Regions from separate parts of the Homo sapiens genome. Here region 1 is linked to region 2. Evidence: fine-mapped expression QTL. A gene starts in region 2. The other region holds a variant in brackets. All regions are shown on one strand. Distances are between the middles of the regions. Region 1 overlaps KCNQ1 (potassium voltage-gated channel subfamily Q member 1). Region 2 holds the start of KCNQ1 (potassium voltage-gated channel subfamily Q member 1).

Region 1 (4,383 bases), 35 kb after region 2:
GAAAAGAAAACTACAGACCAGTGATATGTACACAGAGAGCAATGAAAATCCTCATTATGATGGCAGACTAAACCCATAGTGTGTTAAAAATGACCACACATGTAGGCTAGGCACAGTAGTTCATGCCTGTAATCCCACCACTTTGGGAGGCTAAGGTGGGAGGATTGCCTGAGCTCAGGAGACCAGCCTGGGTGACATAGTGAGACCCCATCTCTTTTTATTAAAAAAAAAAAAAAGACCATACATACACACATGCACACACAACAGTGGTAATGGATTATAATTCATGAAAAAAGAATCTATGCATCCACAGGGACACACCCATGTATATAAACAAATAAGTGGAAGAAAGGAATCCAGTTCTCACGTTAGAATCAACAGGGCTGGAAGGCCATCAAGGAAACCCCGTGGCAGGGGCAGGGGTTCAAAGAGCTGGTGGTTGTAGTCTCAGTGTCTCCCACCACCACTTACTAGTTACAAAGGAAAAAGAATCACTTTCTAGAGGCAAAGCTGGCGACACCACCCGAGCCAAGTGATCCAAGTTAACATCACCAGGAATGGGACAGGCCAGCTTCACCACCCTCCGGATGGACAGCCTCGGTAGCAGAACTCCTGCCAAAGACACAGCTGTCCAGGGTCGAATCATCCGGAGACACAGGGCAAACCCACATGGAGGGAGACACACACAGTGGCCTGAATACTTTGAAAATGCCAGGGCCAAAAAACGTAGAAGGCTAAATAAAGTACCGTTCAGGGTGAAGGGGAAGGAAGAAATGTGATGCCTAAGTGGGAGTCTATGATTCCACTATGTTATGTATTAGTCCATTTTCAAATTACTGATAAAGACATACCTGAGACTGGATAATTTATAAAGGGAAGAGGTTTAATTGACTCACAGTTCCACATGGCTGGGGAGGCCTCACAATCACAGCAGAAGATGAAGGAAGAACAAAGGAACATCTTACATGATGACAGGCAAAGAGATAATGAAAACTGAGCACAAAGGGTTTCCCCTTATAAAACCATCAGATCTCGTGAGACTTATTCATTACCATGAGAACAGCATGGAGGAAACCACCCCCATGATTCAATTATCTCCCACGAGGTCCCTCCCATGACACGTGGGAATTATGGGAGCTACAATTCACGATGAGATTTGGGTGGGGACACAGCCAAACCATATCATTCCACCCCGGCCCCTCCCTAATCTCATGTCCTCACATTTCAAAACCAATCATGCCTTCCCAACGGTGCCCCAAAGTCTTAACTCATTTCAGCATTAACTCAAAAATCTGCAGTCCAAAGTCTCATCTGAGACCAGGCAAGTCCCTTCCACCTATGAGCCTGTAAAATCAAAAGCAAGTTAGTTAATTCCTAGACACAATTAGGGTACAGGCCTTGGATAAATACACCCATTTGAAATGGGAGTAATTGGCCAAAACGAAGGGGCTAAAGGCCCCATGCAAGTTCGAAATCCAGTGGGGCAGTTAAATCTTAATGCTCCAAAATGATCTCCATTGACTCCATGTCTCACATCTAGGTCATGCTGATGCAAGAGGTGGGTTCCCATAGTCTTGAGCAGCTCTGCCCCTCTGGCTTTGCAGGGTACAGCCTCCCTCCTGGCTGCTTTCACAGGCTGGCATTGAGTGTCTGCAGCTTTTCCAGGCACATGGTGCAAGCTGTTGATGGATCTATCATTCTGGGATCTGGAGGACAGTGGCCCTCTTCTCACAGCTCCACTAGGCAGTGCCCCAGTGGGGACTTTGCATGGGGGCTCCAACCCCACTTTTCCCTTCCTCACTGCCCTAGCAGAGGTTCTCCATGAGGACCCCACCCCTGCAGCAAACTTCTGCCTGGACATCCAGGCATTTCCATACATCTCTGAAATCTAGGCAGAGCTTTCCATACCTCAATTCTTGACTTCTGTGCACCCACAGGCTCAACACCACATGGAAGCTACCAAGAGTTGGGGCTTGCACCCTCTGAAGCCACAGCCCAAGCTGTACCTTGACACCTTTTAGCTATGGCTAGAGCGGCTGGGACACAGGGCACCAAGTCCCTAGGCTGCACACAGCATGGAGGCCCTGGGCCCAGTCCAGGAAACCATTTTTGCCTCCTAGGCCTCTGGGCCTGGGATGGGAGGGGCTGCTCCTAAGGTCTCTGACATGCCCTGGAGACATTTTCCCCATTGTCTTAGTGATTAACATTTGGCTTCTTGTTACTTATGCAAATTTCTGCAGGCTGCTTGACTTTCTCCTCAGAAAATGGGTTTTTATTTTCTATCACATTTTCAGACTGCAAATTTTCTGAACTTTTATCTCTGTTTCCCTTTCAAAACTGAATGCTTTTAACAACACCCAAGTCACCTCTTGAAAGCTTTGCAGCTTAGAAATTTCTTCCACCAAATACCCTAAATCATCTCCCTCAAGTTCAAAGTTCCACAAATCTCTAGGGCAGTGGTAAAATACTGCCAGTCTCTTTGCTAAAACATAGCAAGAGTCATCTTTAAT[C/A]CACTTCCCAAAAAGTTTCTCATCTCCATCTGAGACCACCTCAGCCTGGATTTCATTGTCCATATCATTATCAGAATTTTGGTCAAGCCCTTCAACAAGTTTCTAGGAAGTTCCAGACTCTCCCACATTTTCTTGTCATCTTCTGAGCCCTCCAAACTGTCCAACCTCTGCCTCTTACCCAGTTCCAAAGTTGCTTCCACATTTTTGGGTATCTTTACAGCCGCACCCCACTCCCAGTACCAATTTACTGTATTAGTCCATTTTCATGCTGCTGATAAAGACATACCTGAGACTGGGTAATTTATAAAGGGAAGAGGTTTAATTGACTCACAGTTCCACATGGCTGGGGAGGTCTCACAATCATGGCGGAAGATGAAGAAAGAGCAAAGGCACATCTTACGTGGCAGCTGGCAAAGAGAGAATGAAAACAGAGTGCAAGGGGTTCCCCCTTATAAAACCATCAGATCTCATGAGACTTAATTCACTACCACGAGAACAATATGGGAGAAACTGCCCCCATGGTTCAATTATCTCCCACTGGGTCCCTCCCACAACACATGGGAATTATGGGAGCTACAGTTCAAGATGAGATTTGGGTGGGGACACAGCCAAACCATATCAGAGTTGAATCCTGTCTGGGAAGAGATGGCTGCAATAGCCAGTGTCTGGGCAGCTGATGATGTGAGAGTGTGAGGTAGAGAACTGTAGTGTGCAATAGAGACCTGTAGTGTGCATGTCAGTGTTGTTTCCCGATTTTGACAACAGTACCACATGGTTACAGAAGAGAACACCCTTATTCCTAAGAAATCCATGAGGAGGCGTTTAGCAGAAAACAGGCATGGTGTCTCCAAGGGCTCAGAAAGATTCAACCAAAAGAGGGAAGTCTGGAGAGGGACAGGATGGAGCAGGACGGGGGCAGTGTAGAAACCGCAGGCAAGTCTAAGCAGAGCACGTTTGGGAGTTCCTTCTGCTATTCTTGCAACTTCTCTATAAGTTTGAAATGAAATCATATAAATCGAAAGTTAGAAGAGAATTACCACATCATGTTGGATTTCACTCATAGCCACGAGAACGGGTGGTGGTCTCTTCTGCAGTGAACTGATGCGATGTGTGATGTCACTAGTTCTCATCCAAAGCAGATGACAATTCCAGTTACTCCTCACCAGACATAAGAAAATGCTTTTAGTAGATCAGTTTTTCTGATTGTAAAGTTCAGAAATGTTAATCAGAGAACGTGCAGAAATTTTTAAAGAAGAAAAGTAAAATGACTCATCGTACCAAAAGCCAGAGATGCCAGCTTTTAGTTTCCTGCTAGTCTTTTTCTCGGCGTGTGTGTGTGCGCGCGTGCATGCACATGTTTCTACTTGGTCTTTGTGTGTGTGTTAAGGGCGTGTACACACACAGTGCAGTCAGGAGTGAGTTGCACGTCTACAGCTAGGCTGCTTCCCCGAGGCTGTGTGGCCATCAGCCAGGCGTCCCCAACCCCCAGGCCATGAAGCACTACCAGTCCATGGCCTGTTAGGAACCAGGCTGCACAGCAGGAGGTGAGTGGCAGGTGAGCAAGTGAAGCTTCATCTGTATTTACAGTCACTCCCCATCACTCGCATTACCGCGTGAGCTCTGCCTCCTATCAGATCAGTGGCGGCATTAGATTCTCACAGGGGTGTGTACCCTGTTGCAAACTATGCATGTGAGGGATCTAGGTTGCCTCCTCTTTATAAGAATCTAATGCCTGATGATCTGTCACTGTCTCCCATCACCCCCAGATGGGACTGTCTAGTTGCAGGAAAACAAGCTCAGGGCTCTCACTGATTCTACATTATGGTGAGTTGTATAATTATTTAATTCTATATTACAATGTAATAATAGTAGA
Region 2 (4,383 bases):
GCCAATCTGATAAGCAAGCAGTGGTATCAGAGTGTACTTTTCATTTGCATTTTTCTTGTTATAAATGAGGTTGAACATTTTTTCATAAGTGCAAAGGTCATGAACCCCATTTCCTATGAACTGCTCATGTCTTCTGCTCCCTTTTCTATAGGACTGTCTGGCAGGTTCCTCACCTCAGTTTTGATGTTCTTTATGTATCAGTGATATTAATCCTTTGTGATCGAAACTGCAAATACTTTTCCCATTTGGTCATTTGTCTCCTTTACTTTGCTAATGGTGCTTCTATTTTAATTTTTCTTATTTTATCTGTTGCTTTTGGATTTCAAGTCATAGTTGGAAATGTTTTCCCGATTCACAGGTTCTTGAGGAATTGACCTGTACATTCTTGTAGAATTTGCATGGCTTCATCTCACCCTTTACACTTGAGCCTCTGATTCATTTGAGATTTATTCTCGTGTGCGGTGAGATGGACCCAAGGTATGCTTTTTCTTTCTTTATGACTGTCCAGTTGTCCAAACGCTGCTTATTCAAAGCTCACCTTCCTCCTGCTGAGGTGGGAGGGGAAGGCAGAGACTCCATGCAGGTGTATGTATGTTCACCCGGAAAGTAACTGCTGAATGCGTGCTGTGTGCCCTGCAGAGCTGACTGACTGCCCCCATCTTCTGACCCGCTGCCCTTCTGCACCTTCACTGATATGCTTCCCAGGAAGGTACCCTCTCCTCGGCCTCCCTTGTGTTATCACAGCGCCCAGCACAAGCTGGGACCCACTCCATCCACTCTTGCTGCAAATACAGACTGTGCACTCCTGTGTGGCACCTCACTAGGGTGGGGAGTCAGGCGTCAAGGGCCTGGGCTGGACTCCGTCCACGATAAAAGAGCAGACTTTTGGCAGGGGGTGGTAGATACATCAAATTGACCCAGGGTGCTCAGGGACGACCTGGAAGTGTCACATGAGTTATGGGTCTCCTGGCGGGGCGGAGAGTCACCGCTGAGCTCCACCTTTAGTCCCTGCCTCAGGGCTGTGTGCAGTATCCTGAAAAAAGCCGGTCTCTTCTGTTGGCTGCCCCCCACCCCCCCCCCAAGCCTGAGACGTGCTGAGACCCAAATGCCAGTAGCGGGCGGGAGGCAGTGCAGAGACCTGTGAAAATCTTCCGATGTGACCAACCCACCCCCACCCAGGGGAATCCACGGGGCGCAGCGGCAGCGCGGTCTCGACGGTGGGGAGGACAAGGCGCCCATTCTCCAAGTTACTAGGGTGGCGCAAGCGCCTCTCCCTTTAACTGCCCAGGCAGCCCCGCCTGCTATGCCCGGCAGTCAAACCAGGTCCAGACCCCGGCTGTGCCGCCCCCACCCCCCAGCAGCCCTGCCGGCTCCCCACCCACACAGCTCCCACTGGGAGGTACCTGACAGTGGTGGTCCCATCTCACCCTCCCGGTCCAAGGGCCCTGGTGGGAAGCGACCCGAGCGTATTCGCCGCCCGCAGCTCGCGCGCCTGGGCACCCGGGGGCGCTCACAGTGATCGCGGGGCCAGCACACCCTCACCCAGGACATCCCTTTCCTCCCCCCAACCCCAACTCCGGAGTGGCTCAGAGGGAGGGAAAGTAGATGCCGGCACCCTACCCCGCCCCTCCTGCCCCCGCTGTGCCGTTCTCGGTCGTGGTATCGGCCAGGCCTTACCCCTTCCTCCCTGGCGCAGCTGGGGTCCTCCTCCGGGCCAGGCAGAGCAGGCGGGCATCAGAAGTGGGGGCCAAGCAGGTGGGTGAGGGCAGGGCAGGAGCAAGCAGGGGAGATGCAGACGGGGCGGGGCCAAGCAGGTGGGTGAGGGCGGGGCCAAGCAGGTGGGCGGGGAGGGGGCGGGGCCAGGCGGGGTAAATGCACACTGGAACGGGGCCAAACAGGTGGGCGAGGAGGGGGCGGGGCCAAGCGGGATAGATGACACGAGCGGGGCTAAGCAGGTGGGCTCGGGCGGGGGTGGGGGTGGGGGCGGGGGCGCAGGCGGGGGCGGGGGCGCGGACAGGCCAAGCCAGGGGGTGAGGCGGAGGCAGGGCCAGGCCGGTCCGTGGGGAGAGGGCGGGCCAAGCCGGTGGGCGCGGGCAGGGACGCCCTGTGCGCGCCGGACCGGCGGGGGCGGGGCGTGCAGGCGGGGGCGGGGCACGCCGTCCCATGGGACCGGCCCTCGGCCACTGCCCCCTCCGGCCCCGCCCCGAGCGCCCGGGCTGGGCCGGCAGCGGCCCCCCGCGGCGGGGCTGGCAGCAGTGGCTGCCCGCACTGCGCCCGGGCGCTCGCCTTCGCTGCAGCTCCCGGTGCCGCCGCTCGGGCCGGCCCCCCGGCAGGCCCTCCTCGTTATGGCCGCGGCCTCCTCCCCGCCCAGGGCCGAGAGGAAGCGCTGGGGTTGGGGCCGCCTGCCAGGCGCCCGGCGGGGCAGCGCGGGCCTGGCCAAGAAGTGCCCCTTCTCGCTGGAGCTGGCGGAGGGCGGCCCGGCGGGCGGCGCGCTCTACGCGCCCATCGCGCCCGGCGCCCCAGGTCCCGCGCCCCCTGCGTCCCCGGCCGCGCCCGCCGCGCCCCCAGTTGCCTCCGACCTTGGCCCGCGGCCGCCGGTGAGCCTAGACCCGCGCGTCTCCATCTACAGCACGCGCCGCCCGGTGTTGGCGCGCACCCACGTCCAGGGCCGCGTCTACAACTTCCTCGAGCGTCCCACCGGCTGGAAATGCTTCGTTTACCACTTCGCCGTGTGAGTATCGCCACCGGCGACGGCCGGCACGAAGGTGCTTCCTGAGAGCTGGTGTGGGGGAGCTCTGTCCCAGCGCCACCTGCCCCGTCGGAGCTGCGACCCCGGAGCAGAGGAGGGAAGGAAGTGGGGAAACGCAGAAACACAAACTCTGCACTCTCCCTTGAAGTTCAGAGGCGCTGCTGTGTCTGGGGGTGCGCATCTTCTCGCAGGCCCGGCGTGGGGAGGGAGCCGGCTGGGGAGGGGACCACCTGGAGCCCAGAATTTGGCTCCACACCTCCGGGAGGGTAGTCCAGGTGTGAATCCTTCTGGGAAGAGAAGCGTGCTGGGGAGCGCACCCTTGGGTGCAGTAAGATAACTCCTCAAGGTCGGCTGAGACTCGAGGCTCAGGAGCCCCCAAGAGAGAAGGCCCCTGATGTCCGGTGCCGCATCTCAGACCCCCTGAGGCCCAGGTGGACTCTGGGGCAGGGGGCTGTCCAGGATAGGAAGGTGACGGTGGCGGTGCTCCCTGAGGGCTCAGCATGCCACGGGCCGTCCCCACGGGCCCCACATTAACTAATTGAACCAAGCTCATGAAAACCTGGCTTGATGCAGAGAGCGGAGAGGCACGTTTGCAGCTCTCACTAAGAGGCAGCTGTGCTCCCGGAGAAAGCAGCGCTGGTAGCAGAGGCACCTGGCCCCCCTGTTACCAGGTGGTTCCAATTCCCGGTACAGCGTGCCTGAGCAGGGCTGGGCACTGGATTTCTCAGGGACAGGCCTGGGAAGTCACCTCCGGGAAGGTCCAGGCTGCTCTCCTCCATGCCTGCCTGGGGCCTTCCCCCGCTGCCCCAGTGGCCCTACTTCCTGGCTGCCCAGCCAGCGGCCTTTTGGTGTGGTGCCAGCCTCTGGCCTGGGAGCCTCTACCCAGACATCCCATGGCTGATGGCTGTGGGGCTCACCTGAGGGCTGAAGGGTGGTCTCCCTGAGCGTCCTCAGGTGGAAGCATCTCCTCTGCCTCGGGCAGGCTCAGTAGAGAACTGGCTGGAGGGCATCCAGAGGCCTGTCCATGCCTGCTGGCAGCTGCCACCAGGGCCTCAGGGCGGGTGACAGCAGGAGCCAGGCCCCAAATGGCTTCAAGCATCGTCTCAGGTGAGGGGGTGGGGTAGGGGTCGCAGGGCTACTGCCTTCCTTGCTAAGAGGTGGCCTTCCACATCAGGAAGGGGAAGTCTTACCCACCTCCCTCCTCAAAGATGTGGTTGGGGGGTGATCTTGGAGACTTTTCCCCACCCCAGCTCCCAAGCCCCTGTCTCCTGACATGTCAGTGGGTGCCTGAGCCACAGCCGCTGCTGGTCTGTGAGAGGAGCTGGCTCTGCTCGTGGCTGCAACAGCGGGGGCTCGGCTTGGGGTTTGGGAGATATTTGTGTGCAGTGACCCCAGGGGAACCCAGTCCGATGCCACTGTGCAAATGTCTAGCAGATGCCAGGTTCACAGGTGCTGTGTGCTGGTGGCCACCTGCCTCCCGGACCCCAGACTCTCTGAGATGTCCAAGGGTGGGAAGACCTCCTCAGCCAGAGGCCAAGGCAAAGTGCCCGCAGACCCCCTCAATTCTCACTTGTATTCAGGTTTGTGGACACATGCCTCCGGGCTCACTGCAGCCACCCGTGTGGAGGAAGAGG

Evidence for each region. PIP is the estimated chance that this variant, and not a neighbour inherited with it, causes the effect.
Region 1: its variant is the best candidate, but not a certain one, in a credible set for the expression of KCNQ1 in whole blood (TOPMed, PIP 0.76).

What each region holds. Positions count from the first base shown.
Region 1 is chr11:2,477,513-2,481,895 of GRCh38, forward strand. All of the region lies in intron 1 of KCNQ1 (potassium voltage-gated channel subfamily Q member 1), which reads left to right. Among named protein-coding and RNA genes, the nearest start is that of KCNQ1, 35 kb to the left of the region's middle. The variant C/A (reference allele first, on the strand shown) is at 2,511.
Region 2 is chr11:2,442,754-2,447,136 of GRCh38, forward strand. It overlaps KCNQ1 (potassium voltage-gated channel subfamily Q member 1), which reads left to right and starts at 2,255. Exons shown (of 16, transcript NM_000218.3): 1 at 2,255-2,731. The coding sequence starts at 2,346. It overlaps TRPM5 (transient receptor potential cation channel subfamily M member 5), which reads right to left and starts at 1,761. Exons shown (of 29, transcript NM_014555.4): 1 at 1,678-1,761. RefSeq lists silencers at 2,055-2,164, 2,175-2,244.